Linked DNA regions of Homo sapiens: regions 1 and 2 are each linked to region 3. The links come from fine-mapping of genetic effects on gene expression. A gene starts in region 3. Each other region holds a variant in brackets. All regions are shown on one strand. Distances are from middle to middle.

Region 1 (10,282 bases), 96 kb after region 3:
CAATAATTGTTTATTCACCTACCCTCTTCCTCCTCTTGTTGACTGTCTGAAGTTGATGCTATTGTGTATAGACTCTTATAGTTCACTCTCATGTTCCTAAGCTACAAAGCTTAGGAAAATTAAGAAGAAAAAAATGCAGCCAGGCGCAGTGGCTCACGCCTGTAATCCCAGCACTTTGGGAGGCCAAGGAGGGTGGATCACGAGGTCAGGAAATGGAGACCATTCTGGCTAACACAGTGAAACCCCGTCTCTACTAAAAAAAAATACAAAAAAATTAGCCGGGCATGGTGGCGCATGCCTGTAGTCCCAGCTCCTCGGGAGGCTAAGGCAGGAGAATGGCGTGAACCCGGAGGCAGAGCTTGCAGTGAGCCGAGATTGTGCCACTGCACTCCAGCCTGGGTGACACAGCAAGACTCCGTCTCAAAAAATAAATAAATAAATAAATAAATAAATAAATAAAAGAAGAAGAAGAAGAAACAAATGCTTGGTTTTAAATAGAAAACTATCAATTGTTTGAGTAGGCTTTTCTTTGGCGTATATAATAAATTAATCAGTGATAATGCAAGTCAATGAGAAAGAATCAAGTATGGCAGCCTACCTTACCTACAGCAAGAAAATGAGGGAAATGAATGACTTGTATTTGTTTGGTTGTTGGGATGAACTTTGTTGGTGTCCTTCAGTATCATGTCGCCTGAAAAGTGTTGATGCAAAAGGTGAACAGGAAGGAGCAGCACAGGTCTTACTCTCAACAATGTTGCAGAACTATCATTAGCTGGAGCTGCAGAATTAAGTTTACATTTAAATTGGACCCATTCTCTCCTGGAATTCCCCATCTGACACATTTCTATCTGTTCAAGGGTTACTTGTCTAAGAGTTAATATCAAATGTCATGGAGCCTTTCTTTATCCCTTCACCTCTGCCCTCCTTATCCCTAATTCCCCAATCGAAAGTAATTGTTTACTTCTCTAAATGCCTATAAATCTATTATCTATGCATCTTAAAGAATATATTTAATCTTAAAGCTATTTTTTATATACCTTGGTTCTTGTAATAAACCATGAGCTCCTTCAAGAGCAAGGTCTCCAAAGATTTTTATATGTGATAGGCCCCTAATTAAAATGAATGAAAAATGAATAAAGGAGAAATTAAGAAAGAGAGAATGAGTAGTTATGACTGTGGGCCATGGAACCATATTACCTAATTTCCAACCCTGCTCCACTATTTGCTAGCTATGTAACTTACATCTCTGTGTCTTCCTGTTTTATCTTAAAGAGGGGGTAATAATACCTAGAAATGTTGTGAAAGTTGAAATGACACATGTAAGCTCCTAGAGTGCTCGGCACAGAGTAAGTGCTCAATTGATGCTCGCTTTCGTTATCTTTGTTCTATGAGGCTGACGTTGTCATCAACATTACAAAAGCGAGGGCCCAGTATGACCCACAGACTCACAGAATCTGACGTTTATGCAGATGTCTCACACTGGGGTTTGCGTGTACATAAACTCAATTATACAAAGACATCCTTTGGGTTATTTTCAAGGTTATCGGCTTGCTGGCCTCTGAGTGGAACACCCCATGTTTGACTTTGTTGGACAAACCACAAAACTGTCTGACACCTGTGTGAAACTTGTGTCACCCAAGCAGGACATTGGTGATGTGCTCCAGGAAAGTCTCCAGTACCTGGGCTGGAAACACATTGGGATGTTTGGAGGCTACTCTGGGGCTTCCTCCTGGGATGGAGTGGATGAACTGTGGAGGGTTGTAGAGAATGAACTCAAATCCCATTTTATCATCACTGCCAGCATGAGATACACCAACAATAGTCTAGTCCTTCTTCAAGAGCATCTTTGGAGGATATCATCAATTGCCAGGGGTAAGTAGAAAAGTCTTCTGTTGCTTTTATTTGGAGAGAAAAATGGGACAAGCAGATTTGAAAAAAAAAAAAACAACCCAAAAAACTCTTCACTTTTCTATGAGTGTAAAAGCAGATGGAAACAAGGTACAAAATTAATAATATATAAAAGCAACTTCCTTTATTGCTTGACATCACTAACAAAAAATTGTGGGTTTTTTTTTTTGGTCTAAAGTAAAACCCCACATGCTACAGTGTTATGATACACAGCGCAAGTTCTAGAAGCATCTTACAGGTGGGCTGGGTCCTGGACTTCACTATTTGTTTACAGCATGGGCTCTGCAGATTGACAGACCTAGGTTTGAATCCAGTCTCTGACATTTTAGCTGTGTCCTCCTTGGGTAAGTACCTTAATCTCTCTGTATCTCAAATATCTTTTCTATAAAATGGAGACAACCATCCTACCTATGTCACAGAAAGGGGAGGATTAAATAAGGTTATGCCTGTAAAGTGCTTAGCACCATGTCTGGACAAGTAGTTGGTCAACATATGACAGCAATTATTTTTGTGGTGATGCCTATAAGGCTCAACTTTCTAGCATGAATTAGTAACTGACTCCTTTCTGTTCCTCAAATAAACTGAACTCTCTCCAGCCCTGAGACTTTAGGGTTTTCTACTCCCTTGGCCTAGGGTGTCACCTGCACCCACTCCAACCAGTGATGCTAATGTGGGACTCTAAGGCACAAGTGGCTCTCACTTGTTTTTCTTCCACAGCTACCTCCCTGTGTCCCTGTTGAATCTCTAATAAAGGGCTTGAAAGACCAACACTGATCCAATGAGGCAATTGTTATGTGGTCTCAGTCACATTCCACCCTACCCAGCACCTTCTTAAGGGTAGCGTCCTCTCATCCTTGCATCCTTGCCGACTGGGTCCAGAGCCCACCTCCTCAGGAAGGCCTTCTCTAACCACTTGATGTGAAGCTGTTTCCCCTCCCCACCCATTAGCATCACAGCATCCGTTTCCAACCTCACTAATTAGAATCTTCAATGATCTCTTTAATCTGTCCACTTGTATGCTGTCTGCTGGCTCGTTCACTGCTATGTCTGTGCCCAGCAAAGTGCCTGACACATAATTGGAGCTCAGATAAATAGACTATAAATTACTTCATTTAAAAAACTAGCTGGGTGCGTTGGCGCACGCCTGTAATCCCAGCACTTTGGGAGGCTGAGGTGGGCAGATCATTCAAGGCCAGGAGTTGGAGACCAGCCTAGTCAACATGGTGAAATGCTGTCCCTACTAAAAATACAAAAATTAGCCAGGTGTGATGGTGCATGCCTGTAATCCCAGCTGTCCTGGAGGCTGAGACATAAGAATTGCTTGAACCCAGGAGGCGGAGGTTGCAGTGAGCCGAGATTGTACCATTGTACTCCATGCAGCCTGGTCAATACAGCAGACTCTGTCTCAAAAATAAATAAATAAAAAATAAAACCCACTACTTCATTTGTGTATTCTGAAAATGAACGGTGATGGGATTAAACGGCAGAAAAGTACCATGGCCTACTCCTCCCTCCGGCCAGCCCAACTCAGAAAGTCCAAATGCCCTTGAAAGTCCACATGTCCAAAGGTCCTCTGTGAACTCCTCTTAGCTGAAGTGTGGCTGACAAGTCACAAGCCAGGTCTGCTGTTCTGATTTTTGAGCCAAAAAGAAAAAAAAAACCTAGAGCACAGAGGTGATCCCAAACTTTTTTCACTTGTACATTGTGGGGAGGCTGCAGCAAAGACTTCAGTGCTATAACTGCTAGTTTGTACACTTCAGGTTTGGTTAAAGAATGTAAAAACTCAGGGACTAGTTTAGGCATTCCTGTTTCTTAAGGCATGCCCAAGGAAAGAAAAAGTTCACGTCTCATTTACAGTGACTTTAGGCCAGACTTAGAGTGAGAGCATGCGTGAGAAAGCACACATACACAAGCATGTGCAACTGGCGGACTCTGGTTTTCATTCTTATAGTTATCATCTTAACGTGCAGCTCAGAGGATGCAAAAATTATTCTTCTGGCTGCAGCAAACCTGGGACTCAGCACTGGAGAATTTGTTTTCATCATTTTGCAGCAGTTGGAGGTGGGTACCGTTGACCACTCAATGGCTCTGGTAGTAAGAGGTAGCAAGTATGGAGCACTCGTTATGACCCACATGTATTAGCTCACTGAGCACTCACTACAACCCTGTGAGGTAGGCACTCTCGCGTCCTCTTCTTAAAATTAGGACACTAAGACAGAGCTGGAAGAACTTGCCCAGAGTTCTTCTCCACAGCTAGTGAAAGGCTGAACCAGGCCATGAACTAGGTCAGCTGGCTTGAAGGCCTAGCCCGCTGTATTCCGTATCAGACAACAACAGTTGAGGAACTACTGTCATTTCTACCGGGCAGCTGAGACCTTCCCAAGGGACCCTCAGACACAAGCGGCTCTCACTTCTTTTTCTTCCACAGCTACCGCCGTGTCCCTGCTGAAGCTTTAACAAAGGGCTGGAAAGACCAACATACAGATGCAACGAAGCAATTCTTAGGCAGTCTGATTCTTTTGGTAATGAGAATGGCTAAAAACACAACTGCTTACTATGAGGACTGAGTTACACATTTTACACACGATTGCACTTAATATTCTCAATGGCTTTGCAAGGCAGTTCCTAAATGCATTATTTATGTGCCTGTACATTTTGTATTTGGTATTTCGAACAGCCTTGGAAGGTAGATATTATTGTTATTCCAATGTACAGGTAAAAAAACCCAAGGCTTAATTAAGGTACCTTATCTAAGATTTCAGCACTCCCAAGTGGCATACCTAGTCTTCCAGACTGGGCCTTTCAGTCTGAGCTCACCCCACACAACTCTGCCTTCTGGAGAGCTTATGGAGTACTGGGCCTCACTGTGAGTGCTTAATACATTAACGCTTATTGCAGCCCACCACCACACCATGGGGTATTTTGGATCTGGAAATTGGTGGGTTCTTGGTCTCACTGACTTCAAGAACGAAGCTGCGAACCCTCGAGGTGAGTGTTACACCTCTTAAAGATGGTGTGTCCGGAGTTTGTTCCTTCACATGTTCAGATGTGTCTGGAGTTTCTTCCTTTTGGTGGGTTTGTGGTCTCGCTGACTTAAGGAGTGAAGTTGCAGACCTTCACGGTAAATGTTACAGCTCTTAAACGCAGCGTGGCTGGAATTGTTCATTCCTTCACGTGGGTTTGTGGTCTCGCTGGCCTCAGGAGTGAAATTACAGACCTTCACAGTGAGTGCTACAGCTGTTACAGGTGGCGCATCCGGAATCGTTCATCACTCCCAGTGGGTTCACGGTCTCGGCAGCTTCAGGAGTAAAGCTGCAGACTTTCGCACCATGTTATAGCTCACAAAGGTAACATAGAGCTAGAGCAAGCAGCAGCAAAACTTTAGCCCAAAAAGCAAGACAACAAACTTTCCAAAAAGAACCCAAAAGGGTTATCGCTGTTAGCCCACGCAGCTTTTTATTCCCTTATCTGACCCCACCCACATCCTGCTGATTGGTCCACTTAACAGAGAGCTGATTGGTCCATTTTGACAGGGTGCTGATTGGTGCGTTTACACACCTTGAGCTAGACAGAGTGCTGATTGGTGTGTTTACAATCCTTTAGCTAGACATAAAAGTTTTCCAAGTGCCGACCCAACTCAGGAACCCTGCTGCCTTCGCCTAGTGGATGCCGCCTGCGGAGCTGCCTGCCAGTCCCAAGCCACGCACCCACCCTTCTCAGCCCTTGGGCGGTCGATGGGCGGGGCCCTTTGGGGACGCTGGGGCTGCGCGGAAGCCCACTGGTGGCGGGGGGGGCGGAGGGGAGGCATGGCAGCTGCAGGTCCTAAGCCCTGCCGCGTGGGGAGGCAGCTGAGGCGCGGTGAGAATTCGAGTGTGGCGCGGACGGGCCGGCAGTGCTGTGGCACCCGGTGAACCCTCCGCAGCCGCTGGCCCAGGTGCTGAGCCCCTCACTGCCCGGGGCTGGCGGCGCTGGCCGGAGCTCCGAGTGCGGAGCCCACCCCCACCCGGAACTCACGCTGTCCAGCGAGCGGCACCCAGCCCCGGTTCCCGCCCGCGA[T/C]TCTCCCTCCACACCTCCCTGCAAGCAGAGGGAGCTGGTTCCGGCCTCGGGCAACCCAGAAAGGGGCTCCCACAGTGCAGCGGCGGGCTGAAGGGCTCCTGAAGCACCGCCAGAGTGGACGCCGAGGCCAAGGAGGCGCCAAGAGCGAGCGAGGGCTGCTAGCACGTTGTCACCTCACTTTTATCATCCTCGTTTTACAGAAGAGGAAACTGAGGTTCAGAGAGGTGCCAAAACTTGCCCAAGGCCATCCAACTAGTATGAGGGAGAGCTAGCATTCAAACCCAGGTGGCCTGGGCTCCTTTTCTACCTCTCATCAAGTGCACTGATGCATGGAAATAATGCACGTAGTATCTGCCTCACAGGGGGCTATTGTGTCTGTGCTTGTAAGCATCTTACACAACAGGCATCTACAAAAGCTACTTGCCTTTTCCTATGGACACGGTGCATTATTTTTCTAGCAGTTTTATCTTTCTAAAATAAGCTTTTTAAAAAAATCACAAGAAGCTGAAATAGGACAGAAGAAAATAAAGGGAGATATATAGTAATGTCCCAGATTTTTCTTTCTTTATCATGAAGTCTTTCAGATCCACAAAAGCATCTCAGATTTCTTTGGGTAGGGAGCTGGAATCCTAAAGGCATGCCAGACTTTCCAGAACACTCTCTTACCCTAGATATCCATTGTGACCGCCTCCCTTTCTCTTCACTTTTCCTCTCATCTCTGCCTTCAGGCACATTGTTTTGGCAGGGAAACTTTTCAACTCCCCTGTTGCTTTCTCCCACACATTGATGATCCATTCCAACTGGTGTGTAATGGCAGAAAGAAGGTAGAACTAAGAATACACCAATGTCTATGCAATTGAATTCATGCTGCTTCATGAAAGAATAGCATAAATCTATTTTATGAAACTATTCCCAGTATAGGTTTAGGTGGAAAAAAATCAAGCTGCATTATGGTATGATATCATCATATATATATATATATGTGTGAGTGTGATGTCATATATATGTATATATACATACATATATGTATAATGAGTGGGTATATACTGTTCATAATAGTAACGTAGATTATAATGATAATGCCACAAGCAAAAAAAATTTAAAAAAAGCAAGAATCTATAGTCTTAAGCTTTTTAAGTTTTTGCAATCATTGTTAGTAGGTAAGCTTTCTGCATCTTAGCAGCTGTATGCACCAGGAACATTTTTTCTTTTTATTTGTGGCTTTCCTTCCACTGCTTATATGCCAGCTAGAGAATGTGGACCTTGTATTGCAGGCCTTCTGGAATCACTGTGTTTCCAGGAATTAGAATGTAGTGGTTCAAATTAAACATTGTGTTACACGCAGTGCCCTTGCCAAGGCATTTCCTACCGAATAACAACATTTATTTTATTACTTTTTAGGACCGTTTTTGGAAGGAAGTACTGACAAATCAGAAAATGATGCACCTCCAAAAGGTGTATGGGTCACTGCTTCTCATTGCCCTCAGCTCCTACAGAAAAGGCCGTGGAGACGAAGGCTTTTGGAAACAAGTCTACCAAACACCGAGGAGGTCGCCCTTCCGCAGCACCATCTCCTGGGAGGAGCAGGTGTGATGCCGGGTCTTCCAGCTCAGGCTCCCTCCTCCCCTTCTTTGATCATATTTGTGTTTGCCTTTGCATTTCTCCCTCTTATTTCTCCTCATCTCTCCCTACCCCCCTTACACACATGCAGGTGCACACACACATGCACTTCCCCATCTTCCACGCCCAAAATAAACAGCAGTTTGATGCTCTCTTGTGAATTTATACCTCAGAGGTTACTGGGTGAAAGGCCTTTGGAGCAGAGGCCTATGCCCCCATCCTACTGCTGCTGTTTGCTAACTGTAGGACCTTGTAGTGAATTGCTTAACCTCCCTACACCTCGGTCTCTTCTTCTGTGAAATGGGACTGATAATGGCATCTACCTCCCAGGCTGTGGTGGTGTGTATTTAGTAACATTGTCCATGGAAGAAGCAAAGTATATATCTTCTTCTTTTGAGGGAAGGTCTCGCTGTGTCACCCAGGCTAGAGTGCAGTGGTGCAGTCATGCTCACTACATCCTCGACTTCCTGGGCCCAAGCAACCCTCCCACTTCAGCCTCCTAAGTAGCTGGAAATATAGACACATGCCATCATGTCTTGATAATTAAAAAAAAATTTTTTTTGTAGAGACGCGATTTCCCTATGTTGCCAAGGCAGCTCTTGAACTCCTGGGCTCAAGCAATCCTTCTGACTTGGCCTCCCAAAGTGCTAGAATTACAGGCGTGAGCCACTGTGCCTGGCCCAGAACAGATATTAATGGGTACCCAGACCATGACAATTTCCTTCCCCAGGAGGATGCCAGGACCTAGACCCAGGATGGAGTGGTCAGAGATGTGGAGCTAGGACAGGTCAGGGCCAGCAGGTGGGCTGGAAAAGGGAGGAGATGATCAGGAGAGAGAGGGTCCGCCTGTGGTAATCCCAGTATGTGTGTGATGAGGAGGCAGTATCTGGCTTTCACAGAGAAGTTTTTGAAGAGAGACCTTTGTCCAGAGCTGGAGCTACTTCCAGTGTGGGGCCAAGCTGAAGCCTAAGGTGACCACAGGCCACTGATGACAAGGAGTTTGATTAGAAATGAGGGGGCCGATTGTGGATCCCAACATATAAGACAAGATAACCAATTAAAGAATATTTGAGTAACAGTCTACTAAGTGTCAGCTTTGTATCTGGTACTGTTGGGAGAACAGTGCCTGGCACTTAGTAGGCACTTGTATTTTCCTTGACTGCCCAATAGAAGACATCACGTCCTGAAGACCTACTAAGGGTCAGGGACTGCAATGGATAGTTTACCTATTATGCCTCATTTAACTATTGTCACATTCAACCCAACAGCAGTTTTATCCCCCTCCTTTTTTTTTTTTTGAGATGGAGTCTCGCTCTGTCACCTAGGCTGGAGTGCAGTGGCGCAATCTCGGCTCACAGTAACCTCTGCCTCCTGGGTTCAAGTGATTTTCCTGCCTCAGCCTCCTGAGTAGCTGGGATTACAGGCACCTGCCACCACGCTGGGCTAATTTTTGTATTTTTAGTAAAGATGGGGTTTCACTATGTTGGCCAGGCTGGTCTCCAACTCCTGACCTCGTGATCCGCCCGCCTTGGCCTCCCAAAGTGCTGGGATTACAGGCGTGAGCCAACGCGCCCAGCCTATCCCCATTTTATAAACGAGTGAGCTGAGATTCAGAGAGGCTGTGGAACTTACCTCGGGACTCATAGCCAGTAGGGAGCTGAGCTGGTCTAGTTCCAGCATGTACCCTCTTTCCCTGAAACCATGCTCCCTCCCACCTGTGGCCTGAAGAGCGTCCCTGAAGGATCAGAAGATCTAAGTGGGAAACGCAGCATTCAGAAGGAAAATGAAGACTGCGACGTCTGGGTTTCATAGTGCAGGCGCAGGTGTATGCTGGACCCTCTGCTCTGTGGGATGGGGGAAGAAAGTGCTGTGTGCCACTGCCGGGCGGACGGAACAGAGATTCCTCCTAATTTAGTGCTGGACGGTGACCCAAGAGGCCAAGAACCTCTTGAGACCCTGCTTTGCTTGTCTTATTGAAGGTGAGCCCTTACTCTGCCTACCTTCACGACGCCGTCCTGCTCTATGCTGAGACCGTGAAGCAGGTGGTAAAGGCTGGAGGCGACTTCCAGGATGGGTGGCAGCTGGTCAGCGCTCTGAAGGGTTCCAGTCAGACCACAGTGCAGGGTAGGTGGCTTACTGCTGGAGGGTGTTCTAAACTCAGACCTGCGGCTCCAGTCGGTGGGGGCTTTGAGATCTTGGGCATGTAATTAAAGGCCTCTTTCAGGGCCTGCCTCACACTGAACTCCAGAATTCATCTTTCTTATGGGGATTCCTGTCTTCCTTCTGTAAGTGTAGTTGAGGTTAAGACCTCCCAGCTCCCACAGTTCGCTCATCCTTCTGGCCAGAGCCTGCCCAGACCAGGAGAGGAGGCTGCTGGGCACCTTATCCCCTTTCCCCTGGGAATTCTCCCCCGCAGTTCCATTCAAACTGAGTCCATCAAGAATAAAATTCAGAAATGTGAGACCTGTCTCCCGGGGTCACTTCCCATCTGCAGCCTCTGTGATGGGGGCCCTGGCACCACAGACTTCTGAAGATGGGTTGTAGTCTCATTCTTGCTTTCCTGGTGGGGATGAGTATAGGTTGGGGAGTGAACCGCTTTCAAATCACATTCAGCTGACCAACTGCTTTGATCTTTCTTGTTCTCGTTTTCTCAGTTGTAAGATAGGGATAACACCTGTTACCACATGCAGAAATAATA
Region 2 (10,282 bases), 20 kb after region 3:
TCCCAGGACTTTGGGAGACCAAGGCAGATGGATCACCTGAGGTCAGGAGTTCAAGATCAGCCTGGCCAACATGGTGAAACCCTATCTCTACTAAAAATACAAAAATTAGCCGGGCATGGTGGTGTGTGCCTGTAATCCCAGCTGCTCCAGAGGCTGAGGCAGGAGAATTGCTTGAACCCGGGAGGCAGAGGTTGCAGTAATCTGAGATCGTGCCACTGCACTACAGCCTAGGTGACAGAGCAAGACTCCATCTCAAAAAAAAAAAAGAAAGAAATATATATGTTAGAAAAAGTCTAAAAAGGAAATTTACAAAGACTACAAGAAGATAGTTCCCTGGAAAAGACAGTGTGATGGTGTGCCAAAAACACCTTTCCTGATCATACACATATAAGTAAACACCCATACCGAGTTCCCCCTGACTCTAGTTAGGAGCTGTCTTTAACCACATTAGTCCCTATTCGGGATCATCAAATTTGGGAAATACCTGTTCCTAGCTTGTTATGAACATTTAAAAATCTTATTTTTTTCCCCTTCAAACTGTGCTTATAATAGATAGCAAAGTGGGGAATAAAAGTCTAACTACAAGCTTATTAATTTGAAGTAATAGGACTTACTGCTTTCAGTAATGTCACTGTCATCCATCAGACTATTTCACCTCAATTTCATTTTCTCCCTCAGGTGTTTCAAGAATAAGGGGTTGGTTCCCTAGAAAATGTGTGGAAAAGTGTCCCTGTGATGCTGAAACAGATCAAGCCCCAGAGGGGGAGAAGAAAAATAGATAGCTGCTGTTAAAACAAAATTATCCTTTAAGTCTGCTTAATTACTTGAAAATTGTACATATTACTAAAGAATTATGCAATGAGCCTACTCTGGTTAAGATGTTCTTTTCCTCAAAGGTGCCCTAGTGCCATGATTTAAATATTTTTATTACCATTTTGAAATGGAGAAGCCATTCTGCATATGCCTTTGAATTCCTGCCCCTCTTTACCACCTCTTCCTCCCCCTCAAAGGAAAAACATTTCATCCAAGTAAGTTAACGGCATTTTCTGTAGGATTTTCTTATGCACTGCACACTCTGGACCTCACCTGCAGATACAGTTCCCCCCTTGCCAGGAGCATCTGCATGTGGTACTTCTCTTTTCCCTCAGTTGATATTTCTTATATGATATTCTAGATACTATAGAACTCAATTTGTCAGATTCAGTATAACCTCAGATTTTGTTACCTGTCTTTTAAAAATGCAGATTTTGTCAAATCAAATAAAGATCAATGGATGTTGGGTATAATCAGTTTTTACTTAAAGCATTTTTCTTTTTGCTGACTAAAAAGGTTCATCTTAGTTCCTTATGGAAAAACTGCTCTGCTGCCCTGTGGACAACTGGCATCTTAAAACGTGGCTTAAGACATGACACACTTGCTTCAAGATATTAACCCTATTAATGGGATATTGCGGTCATAGTGATGGCAGCGGATGGCAGTGGTGGCCTGAGGGGTGTTGAGGGGGAGCCGTGATAGGCAGGAGCCAAGCGTAGCTACAGCTGTCCAGCCGTGGCTGCGGACCCGGGCATCCTTGTGCTCTAGGGGGCCGAGGGGAAATACCCCCCCCACACCCCCCCCCCAACAACTGCTTGGCCTCTTCCTGCTCCTGGCACTCGCTCTGGAGCAAAGGTGAGGCCAAGCCCGGGTGCTGTGAGGACCTGGCCAGGTGTACGTGAGCTCTGAGTGGTGCTGACACCAGCGCCCTGCCGCCTAGGCCCCCTCTGGACTTTGGGCTGCCAGCCACAGAGGATTCCAGCTGGGGAAGCAACACCCCAAGGATCCCGTGGCAGTAGTGTTCTAGACTTTAAACATAGTGATATCAAACTACTCATGTACCCTTGAGTAAAAAGCTGAAGCTTGTGTGAGTGGTAGGATCCAAGCTGGTGGGCTTGGATGCTTAAATTGGGCTTGTCTAAACATAACAGTGGAATCACAGAAGGAAAGAGAAAGCCTATTTCTCTGGACTTCAGAAACCTTTCCAAGGCAGGGAATGTGAAGCTTTGGGGGCCAGGCCTGTAATAGTTGAGGATAAGGGAAGAGCACTTGGGAATTCAGCAGTGAACAGACAGGTAAAATATATGTAAGATGGAGTCATGTTATTGTGAAGCAAGAAGGTAGGACAGTCTTGAGTTGGCATTTGAAGCAGATGAGGGGACAAGTCATGTGCTTTGGGATATTTGCATTTTAGAGACAGCAGCAAGAACAAAAACAGGCTGGACCTGTGTCTGACACGTTTGAGAAACAGGAAGGTAACTAGTGAGGTTCAGCTGTAATGCGTGAGGGGAGAATAGGAAAGGAAGTGAAGGCGAGAAAGTTAAAGTGATAATGGGAGCTAGACTTTAAAAGTTAATTCCTGCCTACCCTTTTGTTTCAGATCCTTAAGAATAGATATTTCTTTGGCTTTTCTGGGCTCAAAATCTAGAAAGACCATCCAAGAACATTCTCTTTAACTCCAGTTGGAGGCCAGAAAAGAATACTATTAATATTCAAGATTATAATTAGAGTACAACAAAGATGGTAAAAGAATGGATATGACTTGTGCTCAGTTGGAGTTTTGGCTCAGCTGGTATTTGTTTTATTCTTTACAGCTATGGGATAAGAAGGTTTGGTCTTCAGAACTTACTTTTCTTCACTAACCTGTTCGCAGACTAGAATCATCTGTGGGTCTTCTTAACAATCTCAGTGCCCAGGCTGTATCCGGCCATTTAAGCCAGAATCCCTGGAGTGGCAACCAGGCATTAGTGGTTTTTTTGTTTTGTTTTTGTTTTTTTTTTTTGAGACAGAGTCTCACACTTTCACCCAGGCTGGAATGCAGTGGTGCGATCTCGGCTCGCTGCAAGCTCCGCCTCTCGGGTTCATGCCATTCTCCTGCCTCAATCTTCTGAGTAGCTGGGACTACAGGTGCCCGCCACCACGCCCAGCTAGTTTTTTGTATTTTTAGTAGAGATGGGGTTTCACCATAGTAGCCAGGATGTTCTCGGTCTCCTGACCTCATGATCCGTCCGCCTCGGCCTCCCAAAGTGCTGGGCATTAGTGTCTTTTTAAACTTCCTAGATAATTCTATTGTGTACCCAAGTTTAAGAACAGATACTGTACTTGATTTTTAAGGGGTCCTTGTTTAAGACTGATTTTCATCATGGTCCATGAGGAAAGAAACACCACAACGTAAGTATCTGTAATAGTTTATTTTAAAGACTTTACATTTACAAGTAGAAACAACATGTGTTATCTGTGGGTAAGGTAGAGCAGGAACTCTAATCCAAGGGTGGGGGAGATCAGTTGGTTCCTTCACAGAAAATAAGCCTGTTGTGTGGGCATCTTGCTTGCCTGTAGATCTTTGTTCCCAGTTCAGGAGGTTTTTATTCAGTGCTTGCTTCATTTACTGGAAAAGTTCACTGGGCCCACCTGTCAACTCCTTCCCCCACAGCTTCCAGCTCAGCAGCAAACTGTAGGGAACAGATTTACTCCCCAGTTCCTACTGTAAATAATGCTTTAAGAACAGCATTCCTTTTGGACAATATGTCATAGACCCAATTTTTAATACTCCCAAGTCAGATATCTAACTAGAGAGTTTAGGAAATGTTTGGTATGATCAAACTTTTCCCTTCAGTACACAATTTAATTTACGCAGAAGAGCATCGGAGACATTTGTCTCATAGATATGATTGACATGAGTGATAGGCTAAAACTAAAATTTTAGTGGTTTGTGGAGTGGCTAGAAAACATGAATTGTAAGCAGTTTTTCAGAATTTAAAAATCTCTTAGTTTGAACAGTAGAAGATGTAAATAAGCATAGAGACTGTTGGCAAGTTATGTTTATCACAAAACAAAGAAGAAGGCACAGAGGGTCCCTTTGACCCTTGAACTTGTGGTTACTAATAGTATTAAGGTTGGAAATCATGAGGAAGGACACAGAACATAAACTGGGATCTTGAAGACAGGCATGTTGATAAAAGTAGCCCTGAAGCCTTAATATTAGCAACATCGAAGATGGGAAAGACAGGATTGATTTATTTGGGAACTAAGTTTACACATTATATGTCTCAATATAAAACAAAAGCTATGGCTTTAGAGTTTAACAGGTTAAAAAAAAATAGGAGGAAAGGCAAAACAAATGTAAGAATAGTTTTTAATCCATTTTCTCACAAGCAGTGCACAGTGGGCCGGCAGGTACTTAAGTACCTTATCCTAATCCTGGATGTGCTCATACAGGCTGTCAATTTGGGTCCGAAAGTATTTGGAAAGCTCTCCTCGCTTTGCTTTCAATGTTGGTGTCAAGAGCCCATTTTCAATGGAAAATGGCTCTGGATGAAGAAAAATGGCTTTGACCTGGAAGATGAACACACACACATCCATGCTCATTAGTGATTTGGACTTCTCTGCAGAGCCCCCTGAGTGCTCTGTGAAGAAAGTGAGGTTGATGCAGTGAAAGGGTAAAGGTAACAGTAACACATGCCCATTCCCACAAACATAATTTAAGAAAGTAATGAGTAGGGAGAAGGGAGAATGGACAATAAACAGCAAAAAAAGGGCGCTGTACAAGTAACTACAAAAGGTCATTTTGTAGTTAATGGCACAAAATCTAAAATCAATTCCTTAGAAATTATACATTTAAACCTCATTAGATGGAAACTTTAAACAAAACTTTCTGACAAGAGGCCAGTATAACATCAGTGGTAGCACACACCTGTTCAAAAGTTTTAAGGCCACTTTCTTTCCCAATTTTCTGCAAGTCTTCTAAAATGGCTTCCCTTACAACCTAAGAATACAAAACATCACTTAAAGCATGGCTGTTTCAAAAAGCCTGAAGGGCTAAGCATGAACCAACTCAAAGTGCCTGTCAAAGCCATGCAGTATGAAAGCAGGAATATAAAACTATGCACAAGCACATTATATGCCCAATATTGAAAGAAAAACTGAGAAGAAAAGGCACATCTAAGTGTTAACAGTTTTCTCTGAATAGCATTTTTACTCTTCTTTCCCAATCTTTTCCCACAATGAACATATTATTTTAAATAGAAAAGAGAGTTTTATTTTTTAAACTCTCCATCCTATCCCCGAGTCCCATAAAACTATTCAGTCTGTTTGGGCTGCAGCCACTTGTGACAGATGCAGGAACTGGTGAGGCATCCTCTCCTCCACGATGG[G/A]CCCATGGGTGTGCATAAAGCTTTCCTAGGCAAGACTTACTTGGTTTTGGCACAGTTCCTCAAAGGAGCCCTTCACCCCAAGCTTGGCTGCAAATGAGGGAAGTACATCTGTGTCAGGAACCACCACTCCTACTAAGGATGACTATGGAAAGGAAATAAAAGGTGCAAGGGCATGAGAGAAGTTATGTAGGGATGTCCCCCAGTAGTTAAATAAAGCAGAATTATGTCATTGTAATAGTTATTTCCCCAAAACCTTAAATCCAGTACTAGTGTTCTTTTCTCACCATATATTTTCAACACCATGGAACTGTAATCCCATTTTCCCACTCAATATCTCATTACAAAGATGTTCCATTCAAATCTGATCCTTCAACATTAAGCTTAAAGCGCCTCTGGCTTGTCCATGTCAACTCTCCCCTTGTCCCCTAAAAGCTACATTTAAGCACAGTGTGTATAAAACAGTTCGTTGTTTTGGGATAAGGAGTTCCTTAAAGCTACGTTTAAGCATAGTATGTATAAAACAACAGTTTGTTGATCAAACTTTTGTTTGTTGCTTTATATATATTGCAACAGTTTGTTGTTTTATACATACTGCTCTTAAACATAGCTTTAAGGAACTCCTTAAGGAATGGGAACTAAGTGCAATGTGGAGCTCATTTTTTACTGAATCATTACCTTTTAGTATAGCCATTCTAAACAATTCTACTGACTTGTGTACAACGTCCATCATAGTTTTGAAATTTTTTAAATTGAAATTGCCTTATTTGAGGTTTGGAATGTAACTTCATTTTTTTTTTTTTTTTTAGTTTTATAAGCTTGGATCTTCTCATTCTGAACCCAACTATACAAATTTCCTGTAGCTACAAGAACCAGCATGGTTTGTGACTGAAATGGGCTATTGTTAAAATGATATATTACCCGTAAGCTCTCCCCGTGTACAAAAATTTGTAACACTGGTTGACTCCTGTTGTAGATATTTTCTATCTTCTCTGGTGCAATGTATTCTCCTTGGGCCAGCTTGAAAATGTTCTTTTTACGGTCGATGATCTTCAGAGTTCCATTCTACATGAGACAGATAAAAGTATCAGTATTTTTGAGCCACAGAGATGATATCAGTGGGGAGAGTGGTGAAGTCACAGTCATCTTTCTTCTCTAAAGCTGATTTCTCCAGAGACTTTTGAGCTGTCTTTCATTTCTCTTTCTTGGCTTTGGTGAAAGGGGAGGGAAGCATCGTGCAGCAAGAACCTGTCTTTACTGTATATCTATGTGGAGAGTCAATGCGCAGCCTTAGAGAAAGTCTCCTGGATCTACTGGAGTTATGCAAATTGATGCCTCATCCAAGGAAGAAATTGCACAGCTCTCAATTTCCAATCACTAATTTCCAATTAGTTCATTTTCAGAACTCTCAGAAATAGAGGTGTTGTCTTTTGTTTAGACTTTTGATTTGATTTGAATAGTTCTCCCACCACTTGACTCCCTGTTATGTTTTCCTCCTTGTTAGATCCGGGAGCAGGCTCAAACAGCTCCACTGTGCTAATCAAGCAACTCAATTACTGGGCTTGTTAGGACAGCAACAGGGCTGAGAGGACTCTGACCAGCCACCAAAGGTCATTTGCAGCTTCATTTCTCTGAACTAATTGGTCTGAGGAGCTTAGGTCTTTAGGGATTTGAATTGTAGAATTGGGACAAATGGCAAATAAAATCCACATGCTAACACCCTAAGTAGGGCGACTAACTAAACCAACACTGGAACTATCACAAGGCCGACTTGATAAATTAGCCATCAATTCAGCCTAACGTTCATTATCTGAAAGTGATTAATAAGGTGCAGCCTTCTATAACCCTGGTGTGGGGACATATCTGTTGCTTACATCCTAGGCTTATTAGAGTGTTATTTAATTCTGTTACTAGACAGAAACAAATATATTAGCAAGATACTACCAAACCCAAATCAATAAAATGCATCGTTAGGACCAGTGTTCTTAAAAGTTACATTGTCAAGCATTCCTTAAATCTCACTTAAATCTTAAATATTGATTGAGCAAGAAAGGAGTTTTAAGTTCTAGTGACATTCCCACTTCCCCAGCACATAGTTAAGACAAAACTTTTGAGAGGGAAGATCTTTTGGGAAATCCCATCACTGCCCTTGCAATAATTTCCTTTCTTCTTAGGAAAACTAATAGCAACTACTGCTAATTATCAAGCTATGCTAAAAATATGTCTCTGTATCTTCCACAGAAAGGGGCTGTGAAGGTCAATGAGAGACAAACACTAGCCTCTGCAAACACTTGATTTAGAAATCCTTCTTCCTTGTTTTGATATGCCTGTGAATTAATAGGGAGGATATTTATCCCAAGAAACTCATAAGAGGCAAAAGCTGTGGACCAACGGCATTATCAAACCAAAGTTTTTTGGGTTTTTGTTTTGTTTTGTTTTGGTAGACACAGAGTCTTGCTATGTTGCTCAGGCTGGTCTCAAACTCCTGGCCTCAAACAATTCTCCCTCCTCAGTCTCCTAAAGTGTTAGGATTATAGGCGTGAGCTGCCACACTTGGCTTCAAACCACAACTTCTGCCTCAAGAAAAGTTAAGGGGGAAAAAAAAAGGACAGAGTAGTACATCTCCCTTCCCCTTTCCTAGAGAAGTCACCTAATTTTTCCCTGGCTGGTAGCAAATTTATTCCATTGCAGGGGACCCATGCCAACTCTGATGTGCAGGTCTACCTGACCTGTTAAAGAATCCCACCTTCAGTTTGGGTCTAAAAACAGTGCTAGGATCACTGACTTACTGCTTGCTGGTTGTATATTCGATAAGGAATAAGGCAAGAAGAAAACACTTCAACTGGTCTACATCTTGGTGTCTTCTGTAACAGTGTGATCAAAATACCAAAAGTACTCTGGCAGTACTTCTGGTGTGGTAGCTTATACCAGCAATCCCAGAACTTTGGGAGGTCAAGGCAAGAGGATTGCTTGAGGCCAGGAGTTTGAGTCTATCCTGGTCAACTCAGCGAGACCCCATCTCTATAAAAATTTTTTTTTAAGAAAGACTTTCTAGCTTTGGCAGCTCCTATTCACACGTTAAATTACTTTCTCAGAATTTTATATTGTTGATCCATGGAAGAGCTGCAACCAGAACACAAATCTCATGACTTCCAGCCTATATATATATATATATATATATTTTTTTTTTTTTTTTTTTTTTTTTTTTTTTTTTTGAGACAGAGACTCGCTCTGTCCCCCAGGCTGGAGTGCAGTGGTGTGATCTTGGCTCACTGCAAGCTCCGCCTCCTGGGTTCAAGCCATTCTCCTGCCTCAGCCTCCCGAGTAGCTGGAACTACAGGCGCCCACCACCACGCCCAGCTAATTTTTTGTATTTTTAGTAGAGACGGGGTTTCACCGTGTTAGCCAGGATGGTCTCGATCTCCTGACCTTGTGATCCGCCCGCCTCGGCCTCCCAAAGTGCTGGGATTACAGGTGTGAGCCACCATGCCCAGCCTTTTTTTAACTTAACCTAGATTCTTTCAATTGTATGTTCTTTTTTTTTTTTTTTTGAGACAGAGTCTCTGTCACCCAGGCTGGAGTGCAGTGGCACAATCTTGGCTCACTGCAACCTCTATCTCCTGGGTTCAAGCGATTCTCCTGCCTCAGCCTCCCAAGTAGGTGGGATTACAGGTGCCCGTTACCATGCCCAGCTAATTTTTGTATTTTTAGTAGAGACGGAGTTTCACCATGTTGGCCAGGCTGGTCTTGAACTCCTGACCTCAGGTGATCCACCACCTCAGTCTGTATGTTCTTCTCTGGATAGTATGAGGAAGTCATAAGCCAGGTAGGGTACAAACCTAATCCCCTCCAGCTGCCTCAGCTGATTAACCTACTTGCATTTCTGCACCTCTTGCTATAAGCAGATTGTTCTTCTCAGTCCATTAGCATAGACTTCCAGGAGTTCTGATGATATACCTACCGGGAGCCAGCGACCAATGTCTCCTGTGTGAAGCCAGCCATCACTGTCCAGGGCTTCCTGTGTCTTCTCAGGGTCCTTCAGGTATCCTTTGAACACGTTTGTACCCTTGATGCAGACCTGCACAGCAGACATACAAGGCGGTGACAATAGCAAAGGCTGCTCCTCCCAGCGTGGGCAGTTTATGAAACACCTGCTCCCCTTAAATCATTTGATGGCTTCCACTACACTGTGAAGAGCACCAGATCTAAGTCTCCACTATAGGGGATAGGAAAGTGAAGTTCAGAATGCTTAATTCTTTGCTAACAATCTCAAAGGGGCCAAATCCAAGTTTGCTTACAATTATTTGCTCTTTCTGATATAAACCTCCCCACCATGACTGTCTGACCACAGGGCATGACCTACCCACCTCTCCTTCATTATTCACTGTAAAGTAGTTCATGTCAGCCACATCTTCCAGCTTCACGTAATTGCAAGCCAGGGGCACCCCAACGTGACCTAGAACATACCGTGCTGAATTAGCTGAGAAACTCTTGCATGGTGATAATTCCAGGCACATTTCTAAGATATTTATGAATTGACTCTAGAAGAGGAAGACTGAAAAATCACCTGGCACCAATGCAGACTAGCCAAGATAGGCAGGCCTGGACCCAAAACTTGAATTTTGCATTTGCCACATTAGTCCAGAGAACTGAAGTTATCTAAACTCCAAAGTCCTAGTTCAGTTAGAACCTTTCTCCCAACCATGGCACCTCCTGCCCAGCAGATGGAGGACTTACCTGATGTCCAGTCCCCAGGTAATGTAAATGTACAGCCACCTGTGCATTCTGTTTGACCATAAGCTTCATACACCTGGGAAACCAAAGAAGAGCTTTTAGACTTACTCAAGATAAAGTGTGAGCTGGCCACGTGCTATGGTCAAGACACGAGGAAAGCAAGGTCTCTAAGGGTTCGAGACCACTTAGTGTCTTAAAACCTTGAACTTGGAGGGGGCGGTGGCTCATGCCTGTAATCCCAGCACTTTGGGAGGCCGAGGCGGGAGGATCACCTGAGATCAGGAGTTTGAGACCAGCCTGGCCAACATGGTGAAACCCCATCTCTACAAAAACACAAAAAAAATTAGCTGGGCATGATGGCAGGT
Region 3 (10,282 bases):
TGCCCCCCTTGGGATCCTGAGTTCAAAGCCCAGTTCCAAATTCATATCCAAAAGGCCCTAATCACTTACCTCCTTTCAAATGTGTTCATCAAGAGAAATTTACCTAATTCTAGTCTAGGAACAGAAAGGAAGCAAGAATTGAAGTGTAAGATTTAAGAGTTCAATTAACATGACAAAGTCTGAAGAGCGGGGTCCTAGCTAATCTTACCAACTGTTGTCTTCAGCAGCAGCAGTAATATCATTAATGGCTAGTATATCACGTGTTTTCTCTGTGTAAGAAGGGTGCTAGTGTGTTACATGTTTTATTTCACTGATTTTTACATTATAAGGTTGAAATTATTACTCTCTCACCCCCATTCTACCGATGGAGGAGACAGGCCTAGAAAGGCCAAGCAATTGTCCATGACTGCACATCTAGTAAGTAGCAGAACTAGGGTTCTAAACAGATCTGATGTCATGTCTGAATCTGAATCATTTTGCTGTAATACTTTCTTGGTACAATTCTGAGGACAGCCATAAAGTGACAGGATTCACAACAGATCATTCCCTCTCTGTGAATGGTAAAGTAAGCAACTAATTGCAAAAAGACTACTTTAAAATTCTTCAGGAAGCCTATTTCGTGTAACAGAATCTTTGCACCAGAGGAAAACATTCCCCACTTAAGAATTCACTCCCATCACTAGAGGAAAAGGAACTTCACAATAAAGTACTAACTGTATAGTTTCTGCTCATCCCTTTTCCTTACTTTCCCACAGAACCATAATAATTAAAAAAACAATGTTCAAATATAGTGCCATAGGGTATTAAGAAAGAACTCACCCATCTCAGTTCAATTACTAAAATTAGTTAAGATTCAAACACTTTAAGAGCAAAATCTCTTTATTGTTTAAAAAATATCACAGAGTAATCAGATTTCTTTCTTAAAATAAAATTTTTAAATGTTCACTCTTCTGTTCTCTTTGGAAGCAATACTTTAATACATTGTAACATGCACAGCAGAGTAAAGTTCATTTCAATAGATCTACCCACTCTACTTGAATTTAAGTAAGTTACTATGTTGGGGGAATTAACTGCTTTGGCTGGAAAGTTTGCTCCAATTTTTATCCTTCTTAACTCAAGTAAATTATAGTTCACCTCCTCTGGGTCACTTTTAGCTCAACACTGCACTCGCCAATGATGGCCAGAGAGAGAGATTATAATTACTTGTCATCAAACTATTTTTGCCATGGTTATATATATTAATGTCTGTTCATCTACAGACATACATCTGAAATTCATAACTACATGGATATATTTTTCATCTTTTTCTATACATCAATTGGAAATAGATTTAAAAAGGGGCAAGCACAAGTCATTATTAAGAGGGCAACTACTGCGTTTTTAAGAATTATGATCAGGCCAGGTGCGGTGGCTCACGCCTGTAATCCCAGCACTTTGGGAGGCCCAAGTGGGTGGATTGCGTGAGCCCAGGAGTTTGAGACAAGCCTGGGCAACATGGCAAAACCCCATCTCTACAAAAAAAAAAAATCAGCCGGGCACAGTGGCTTGAGTAGTCCCAGCTACTCGGGAGGCTGAGGTGGGAGTAGACTTGAGCCGTGAGGGAGAGGTTGCAATGAGCTGAGATTGCGCCATTACACTCCAACGTGGGCGATACAGCAAGACCCCATCTCATAAAGAAAAAAGAATTATGATTATTCAATAATACAAGTCAGTAAGCATTCTTCCAGAGCCAGCAATGCAGTCTCCTTTCAATTGTAATGAAGCTCCTGTGTTTGGGCCTTATATAATACTACAGCTAAGGAAAGACATAGTTTTTTTTTAATTTATTTATTTATTGAGACAGTTTCGCTCTTGTCGCCCAGGCTGGAGTGCAATGGCGCAATCTCAGCTCATCGCAACCTCCACCTCCCAGGTTCAAGCGATTCTCCTGCCTCAGCCTCCTGAGCAGCTGGAGTTACAGGCATGTGCCACCACGCCCAGCTAGTTTTGTATTTTTAGTAGAGACAGGGTTTCTCCATGTTGGCCAGGCTGGTCTCAAACTCCCGACCTCAGGTGATCCGTCTGCCTCGGCCTCCCAAAGTTTTGGGATTATAGGCATGAGCCACCGGGCTCTGCCCAGTTTTATTTTTAAGGTACTGAATTCAAAAAGTTTCCTTCTATGTGTTAAGAATTGTCACATTAAAATATAAAGGCAAGAAAAAAATTGTAACACGATCTGTTTTCTTGGAAATTTACAACTTTGCATCCAAGGATGATTTTGTTACCTTGTAAAACAGCTTCCCAATACAAAAACTAATAACCCAAAGAAATGTTTCTACTGCTAAAACAATTACAATTAAAAATGAGTAAAACTCTAACTGGAACCACAAGTCCTGATACTCTGAGGCTCTGGGACTCAATTCAAAGGAAGTAGTCTCCAACAATAACAAAAATCAAGACGATCTCCGGCAGTGGAGAAAAGCAGAACTGAAGAGAAGAGGCGAGGTGATGTATCATGAAGAGATGAGGCCATCAGCCACTTTCGACACAAAAATCTCTGAGGCAGCAGAGCTTGGTGGTATATACTACCTTGGTTCTCTCCTCTTGTTCCCTTACTTGGACTCATAAACCTCTTTAAGACATCATCCATCTCCTCCAGAACTAACTGGGGACTTCAGGAGATGAGTGGGGTATAAGTTCAGAGATCCTGGCTTCAAGCAAATATCCCTATTAACAGAAAATAGGTGAGGGGAAGAAAAACAAAGAAATAAGGGAAGAAAATTACTTATAAACACATAAGTTTTGGGGGAAGTAGGGAAAGGGAAAGAGGAATGACAACTTAGGTCCGGGAGAAATTATTGCTAGTACCAGGACAAGTGGGCAAGTGAAGTGCCCACCAATCCGCAGATTAATGAGCACATCCACCTTTCTACACTTTATATCCTGGAGCTAGGGTAGGGACAAGTCTAGCAGCCAGATGATGGTTCAATTTCCCTAACAAAACTAAACAAAAATGTAAAACCCTTTTCTGTAACTAACTACTCTAATCTGTAGAGAAAGATAGTCCCCGAATCAACATTGTACAAACCATAGTTACAAAAGATCATATTTATATTCACCTGCTCATTCACTTATTTTCCTGAGCCCCTAATAAGTAAACGCCAAGGAAATCAGACACAGCTCCCACCTTCACATAGTTGACAGTCTAGCATAGAAAATAAGATGTGCTAAAACACAAAAGGAAACACAAAAACAAAAACATTTCCAGATGGGAGATGTGAAATTTTTAAGTGTGAAAAATTATCTTGTACCAAGTTTTACATGAAACTGGGTTATACAATAAATCCCCAAGAAGGATGAGAAACAAGAAATGGGGGTGGGGGGTATGAAAAATACTAATGCTAATACAGCAACTAACAACACCAAAAGTGACTTTAAATATGTTATATAAATTTAATCTACCTAACAACCCCATGAGAGAAGTACAATTTTCCCCCATTTACTAAGAAGGAAAGTTGAAAGAGACTAAGAAGTCTGTTTAAGAGGCACAACTTTTATTTTATTTATTTATTTGAGACGGAGTTTCACTCTTGTTGCCTAGGCTGGAGTGCAATGGCGAGATCTTGGCTCACTGCAACCTCCGCCTCCCGGGTTAAGAGGCACAACTTCTAAGTGACAGAGGTAGGATTTGAATCTAGGCACCCTGATTCTTACCTCTATTTTGCCGCATATAATTATAACAATATTATTACTAACACAACAACGCCGCTGTAGATTGTAGATCCATAGGCTACATACTTTCATTCATTTTCTTTGAATACTCACATGTCTATAATTTACAAATGAAAACATTAAGACTCTTAAGACGTTAAGAAACGTTTCCAGGTTATGCAAGTTACAAGAAGGTAGAGCCGGGATTCGAACTCAGATGGCTCAGATTCCGAAGGCTCTTTTCACGGCACCCCACACCCGAACTTGACTCCTTACCCTCAACCAAGCCAAGCCGTATCCCTCCTGGGAACAGCCGGCACCACCCACTCCAGCCTCGCGCCTCATAGACACACTTACTCGGGCGGCGTTCCACCGCCCGCACCCTCCCAGCTCTCCCCAGCACCCTCGTCCAGCCGGGCAAGGCTCTCACCAGGCGGGAGTCGTGGGACCCTCGCAATCTTGCTGGTGATCTCTGCAGTGAGCACCGCGAAGTCCTGCTCGTAACCTTCGAAGTCGGACGACATGGCGGCTCCGGAACGAGTAGCCCAGGCCAAAGCCTAGGTCAGGGAAAGGGCCTCGAGGGGCAGCGAGGGGCCCCGCGGCTTAGGAACCCCGGAAGGTGCCCCCGAGAGCAGAACGGAGAACCGGGGACAGCTCTCAACCCAGCCGCTTCCTGGTTGTTCGTCGCAATCTCGGTTCTCCGGAAATTGGGTTGCGTGCGTGCTTTATTTTCCGCTCCGACTTTAAGATAAGTAAGTTCGCAAAGGAAAAGCGCCCCAATTAGTGCCTCCCCCCAGAAAAGCGTATGAAAATATGCAAGTTCTGAGGGATCATTAGAAGCGTTTTTTCCCCCCTTCGTGTTCTGGGAATCGGCTCCGGATCCACACGCTACAAGGCACAGCAGCTTGCTTCCGGAGGGAGGTTTGAGGCGGCGAACCTCCGGAAGTGACAGTAACAGAGACTGCGCAGGGGGCCTGAGCGGGAGAGTCCTGGCGAGGGCGCTGGCCGAGAGGTGCTCGGCTTGTAGCAGGTCCCGCACTCCAGCCTCTCGCTGCCAGGGTTTGCTCTCTGCTTGTCCTGGGCTGAGGTGTCCATGACGGAGTCATCCAAGGAGGAAAAAATCTGTTCCGGGTGAGCCCAGGCCGCCCCGGATATGCGATGGCTGAGGAGCAGACACCAGGGACCACACTGAGGTGGGAGTCAAGGCAGGGAATATAAGCACGATTTTGGTGGTCTTTGTCCCACCAGAGTGGGAGCAGGCTCTCCTGAATGTTGAGACCAACCTGGCTTACCAGGATATTTCTTCCTTGGGTGAGGATTTATTTCTAAGCCCTCTGCTCCATGACTCGGGCGGGAAACTGAGGCACAAGTCAACAGCGTCTGCTGCGTGGTAGTCTGTATTATCCATGTAGCTCAGATCCTCTTCCAGATCTTCAGATCCAGTCCAGGCAGAGATGCCCTTCCACAAATCTCTCCGGAGCTCGCCGCCCTGCCTTCCATTTCCCTCGCTCCTGGAGGCACTTCCTCTTCTTTCTTCCCTCGAATCTTCTAATTCAGGTTCTTCTCATATACTCTTCTGGTCATAATTTCACACACACCACACACACTCTCGCTCTATCTCCTCCCTTCCTTTCCTTGCATGCTCTCTTTGCTTTCACTGTCGCTCCTTTACTTTTGGGCCAAATTGACTGTTCTCTTGATGTTTGGGTGGCGGGGTGGAGGAGACTGCAGGCAAATGGCATAGACCATGTCTGACTCATACTTGGCTTAATTCAAGACTTCATAAGAGGCAGCTTAGAATTTCATAAAGGGAGGTCGTTGACTTGCCTTCTATTCTGGTTCACCTGTTACTTGTGACCTTGGTCTAATCACTCAGCCTCTCTAAGACAATTTCTGTTCTATGAAGAAGGAAACTGAATTAGATCAACTCTAAGGTCCTAAAATTCTTTGTCTTCTCAAACTATTCACTAAGCGTTGGATGGTGACAGTCCCCTGACAAGCGGAGAAGGAATAAAAAAAACTATTTTGGAATCGTGTATCCAGTTTGCATGCCATTCAAACTTGTACCATATTTTGGATAAGTCAAAAGTAGTTCTTTTTGACATTTGACAAGATATGCATCCCAAAGTGTAGTGCACTTGTGAGATGCTGTTGTGTAGGTGTTTATTGTAGTTAACAAGTATGGTATGCAATAAAGGTTTTGTTTTGTTTTGTTTTAACTGAACTTTCCCATTTTGTTTTCTTTAGGTTGGGTTTCAGACCAAGACACTGGATTCTCCTAGTTAAGATAAAGAGCTTTGGGTGCCTGACAGTGAAAATGGTGTAATCTGCGTTAACAGTTCACAGCTTGAAGGCATGACAATTAAAGAACACACATGGACTTGTGGCACATGGAAATGTGCGCACAGAAAAAGGAAATCTATAATTCTTTTAAAGTAGGAAGGCATTCTTCCTTGCCAAAATGGGTACATTCTGTTCGGTTATCAAGTTTGAAAATCTACAAGAATTAAAGAGACTGTGTCACTGGGGTCCCATCATAGCCCTTGGTGTTATAGCAATATGTTCTACCATGGCCATGATTGACTCTGTGTTGTGGTATTGGCCCTTACATACAACTGGAGGAAGTGTGAATTTCATCATGTTGATAAATTGGACTGTCATGATTCTTTATAATTACTTCAATGCCATGTTTGTCGGTCCGGGCTTTGTCCCTCTGGGGTGGAAACCGGTAAGAAAGATTCTGTAAGACAATGAACTTTAATGATAATCGTATATTTGGTTTTTGCCTTATCTACTAACCAATAATACCAAACACAGCCTACTGTTTGTCCTCACAGAGACTAAGTATATTACTCTAATCACTGATCATTTAGGCTCGGAGACTTTATTTCATATCTGTTTGAACACATTGATCCAAAATAGCATTTTCCAAAGCAATTTTATTGAATATTTGCTCTGCATTAAAAAAAAGATGGAGGTGGGGTGGAGGTGGGATAGGTTCATGGTCAAAAGTTTAGGAAACATCACATGTCATACACAGTGAGGTTTGGCTGTAGTACCTTTTTTCATGTAATACATTAACATCCCTTAGAACTGAGAAAAACGCTTTAGAAACTGCTGGTTTAAATCATAAAGTTTTAAAATCATTGCACTGAAAATATAACATTGGGAAGTATAGTCCAAATCCATTTATAGCTTAAAAACTACTGGGAAATTTATGCTTATGAATGTCCATGTTTCCTGCTAAGGGACCACACCTGATGGCTTGTCAGAAAGGCAGAATCTTGGGCTCCACTTCAGACATACTGAAGCAGAATCTTTATTTTAATAAAGTGCCCAGGTGATGCTTAGGTATATTAAAGTTCGGGAAGCACTGGTGTATATCATGTGCTATGTACTATTCAAAATGCGTACAGAGGAGGGTAAGATGTAATTTGAACTCTGAAAGAGCTTATAACCTAAGCAAGAAACAAACGCACTTGTGCAAATCACTAAACTATAAAGTAGAACGTGATGGGTGCTGTTAAAGTTAGAAGAATTGAGCATTGTTAGTTGGGGACCTGAGGGAGGAGTGGGAATTTCCAAAGGAGATGGGGAAGAGGGCATTTCAGGTTGAAAGAATGGTGGGACCACGTATTCAGAAACAGTAGACAGCCCTGTGTGACTGGGGAAAAGATCATGTAGGGCAGAGACAGCTGAAACAAAGGCAGATTGTGACAGTCTTAAATACATGAGAAATTGTAGACCATAGAAAGTTGTAGGGGTTTTCAGGCAGAGTCTGACACAGTCAGAGGTGTATTATAGGAATATTATTTTGACAATACACGGTTTGTGCTGAAGAAAAACTACAGTAAAGGAAACTAGTTAGGAAGTGATTAAAATGGCCCAAGAAAGGGGTGGTGACGGGTAATGTCAAGGAGGGAGCAGATTTCAGTAGGACTATCAACTCACGATTAACTCCTCACTCTAAAATACCTGCTAAGTTGTCAGCTACCTTTTTCTGAACTCCTGAATCCACTAAGATTTGGGGTAAGTAGAACCAACTAGTGACACTGAATTTAGGTGGAGCACAAGGAAGAAAAATTTAAAAGGACTTCTGGGTAATTGGGAAAGTGATGCTGCTCTTACCAGAAAACTTATTTAAAAATATTTTAGCTCAAATAAGAGGACTGGAAATGCAAGTTAAGATTCTCTCCTTCCCCTATCGCCCATAAAAGAAAATCATACCGTAGGAATCATACTTATATTCAAGTATCCGATGATGCATTTTTGTTTCTGTTTTGCTGCCAAGGAAATTTCTCAGGATACCATGTATCTCCAGTATTGTAAAGTCTGCCAAGCATACAAGGCACCACGTTCACATCACTGCAGAAAGTGTAACAGGTACCTGTCTTTCTTGCTGTTCAGCGAGGACTGATCAACTAATTACTGATGTTTTCATTGTTGCTTATACTACATTAGTGCTACTTCTATTCACTGCAAGGTTACCATATTATAAACAATATTGTCAGAATACTTGTGTCCATAATCGCCATTTTATACTTAAATTATCTAGATAATAAATAGATTTAATTCTTCCTTGTTACAAGTGAAAAGATTTTCCAGAAAAATACAGATTTACTTTGCCTCTTGTCCTACAAGAACAAGGGAAAAAGGTATAAACCTTAAGTTTGTTTCCATATATCAAGATTAATTGTGTTAGTCAGCTGCCATCTGGACTAACTTTAGAATTGTTCTGAGTCTAAATTATAAGGGAGATCTGCTTTTCCCATTACTTATTGACAAACATTTACACTTTATACACATCTAATAATCCAGGTGCCTATTATCACAAATGTTTTAATATCAAAAACTTAGAAGAAAACTGACTATTAAAAATATGAAATAACCTGTGACCTTTTTTAATGAACAGCTATAATCACTGATTAGTAAGAAATTTAGAGAACCGTTGAAAGCAAATAAAGTTTTGTTTCAGGCCAAAACATTGTCTTCTATCAACAGTACACGGCAAGACTTTGTTTATTATACCATATCTTATATTCTGGAGTTAGCTTGCTTAGCTCAGAGATCCATTAACTAAAGGATACTATGAGAACAGGAAGGAAGTTACATGTGTCTATTTGAGCCCATTAACCCCACTGGAGGTCTATAAGGGATTTGTTGAGTCTCTATTGTAGGTCACTTGGGTCACTGCACTTACAAACTAGAAGAAAACCAGGAACCATGCTCATTTCTTTATAATGAGCATTATAAAGAGACCCTCTTTCAGTGGGTCTCCTGACTTCTTTAAACAAATACTTGTAGCTGACATCTTTTCCTCAGAAGCTGTTAGAAAGCCTGCCCTTTCCTGTGCTGTTTAGAATTTAAAAGGAGTCACTTAATTGTTTAAAAGCTCATAAAGATTTTTCTTTCTGTTCCATGAAGTATAATTCTCTCGTAGCTCATGGACATGCTGGATTCCTATTTGCTTGATCTTTTGAAGACCAAAGTTATTTAAAGTAGACAGGATTTTCTGCCTCATGTTTTATGTAAATTTTTCTTGTTAGATGTGTGATGAAGATGGACCATCACTGTCCTTGGATCAACAACTGTTGTGGTTACCAAAATCATGCTTCGTTCACACTGTTTCTCCTTTTAGCACCACTGGGTTGTATCCATGCTGCTTTCATTTTTGTGATGACTATGTACACACAGCTTTATCATCGGGTAAGTGAAAATGAAAATGTTTTGTTATAAAATCATCCATGCAAGATTAAATGGTAGTTATCAACATTTAAGAGGTTCCTTTTGGAAATATGCTTTCTGTGATTTAGTTGGGGAAATAGAACTTTGTTTTACTGGTATATGGGTTCCTTTTTAGAAAGCATTAAAACTTAAATTTTAAGATGAGGAAAGAGTATTTGTTCTGAAAACTTACATGCTGTAGTTGAAGGTGATAAATATTTTAGTACTGTATATGTAATTTGTTAGACTTCAAACTTAATAGTTATGGAAAGAATAGAAGAAAAAAAGACAACACTAGTGCTTCCTACTTTCATCCCATTCATGTGGCAAGTTGTAGTTCTTTGTTCATTTCTGATTCTAGTGCCCTGGAAGGTGGCTCATGGAGCAGATGCATACCATAAAATATAAACAGATTAAACCAGCAAGAGATCAAGTTGATTTATGGGCAAGTAGTCATGAGATAAAGTTCAAGGGACACAAACCTCCCTAAACAGGCCTTGAAAGTAAACGAGAGACACACCTGATGGGACTGCCAAACTGGAGAGTCTGTCCTTTGGGGAGGGGACAGCCCATATTTGATCTGCTAGCTTGTGGTGTTTGGAAATTCTAGCCCAGAAAAATCTGAAAATCTGGATTTTTATGTGAAATCTCTTGATTTTTAAATGTTGGCACCTAATTCTGAATGTTGAAACATTATGCAGGCCAGGCAGCACACATCTGTGGCCATATTTGGCCTGCATTTTATCAGTTCTTCATCACCATTTGTAAAACATGAGGGAAGAAACAACTGAATCCTAGGCAGCACTTGTCACTGTGGAAGAATACTGCGATGTAGAATAGCAAGAGAAGAGAAAAGACATAGTTCTGG

Alleles and levels. Positions count from the first base shown, and alleles are read on the strand shown. Sizes are in standard deviations (SD) of each study's normalised expression. Not every link is listed here.
As copies of A replace G in region 2, the expression in adrenal gland of the gene that starts at base 4,674 in region 3 goes down (moderate effect, 0.55 SD a copy in GTEx).

The links. PIP is the estimated chance that this variant, and not a neighbour inherited with it, causes the effect.
Region 1: its variant is the best candidate, but not a certain one, in a credible set for the expression of ZDHHC6 in nasal epithelium (TOPMed, PIP 0.75).
Region 2: its variant is the best candidate, but not a certain one, in a credible set for the expression of ZDHHC6 in adrenal gland (GTEx, PIP 0.59).

Annotation. Positions count from the first base shown.
Region 1 is chr10:112,345,432-112,355,713 of GRCh38, reverse strand. It overlaps the pseudogene GUCY2GP. Among named protein-coding and RNA genes, the nearest start is that of ACSL5, 24 kb to the left of the region's middle. The variant T/C (reference allele first, on the strand shown) is at 5,965.
Region 2 is chr10:112,421,304-112,431,585 of GRCh38, reverse strand. It overlaps ACSL5 (acyl-CoA synthetase long chain family member 5), which reads right to left. Exons shown (of 21, transcript NM_203379.2): 15 at 9,921-9,993; 16 at 9,551-9,639; 17 at 9,145-9,261; 18 at 6,105-6,248; 19 at 5,227-5,328; 20 at 4,727-4,798; 21 at 3,210-4,368. The coding sequence ends at 4,228. It overlaps ZDHHC6 (zDHHC palmitoyltransferase 6), which reads left to right. Exons shown (of 11, transcript NM_022494.3): 11 at 679-1,286. The coding sequence ends at 782. Among named protein-coding and RNA genes, the nearest start is that of ZDHHC6, 20 kb to the left of the region's middle. The variant G/A (reference allele first, on the strand shown) is at 5,187.
Region 3 is chr10:112,441,306-112,451,587 of GRCh38, reverse strand. It overlaps ZDHHC6 (zDHHC palmitoyltransferase 6), which reads left to right and starts at 4,674. Exons shown (of 11, transcript NM_022494.3): 1 at 4,674-4,883; 2 at 5,938-6,418; 3 at 7,982-8,073; 4 at 9,237-9,396. The coding sequence starts at 6,152. It overlaps VTI1A (vesicle transport through interaction with t-SNAREs 1A), which reads right to left and starts at 4,373. Exons shown (of 8, transcript NM_145206.4): 1 at 4,121-4,373. The coding sequence starts at 4,214. RefSeq lists enhancers at 4,308-4,567, 4,768-4,887.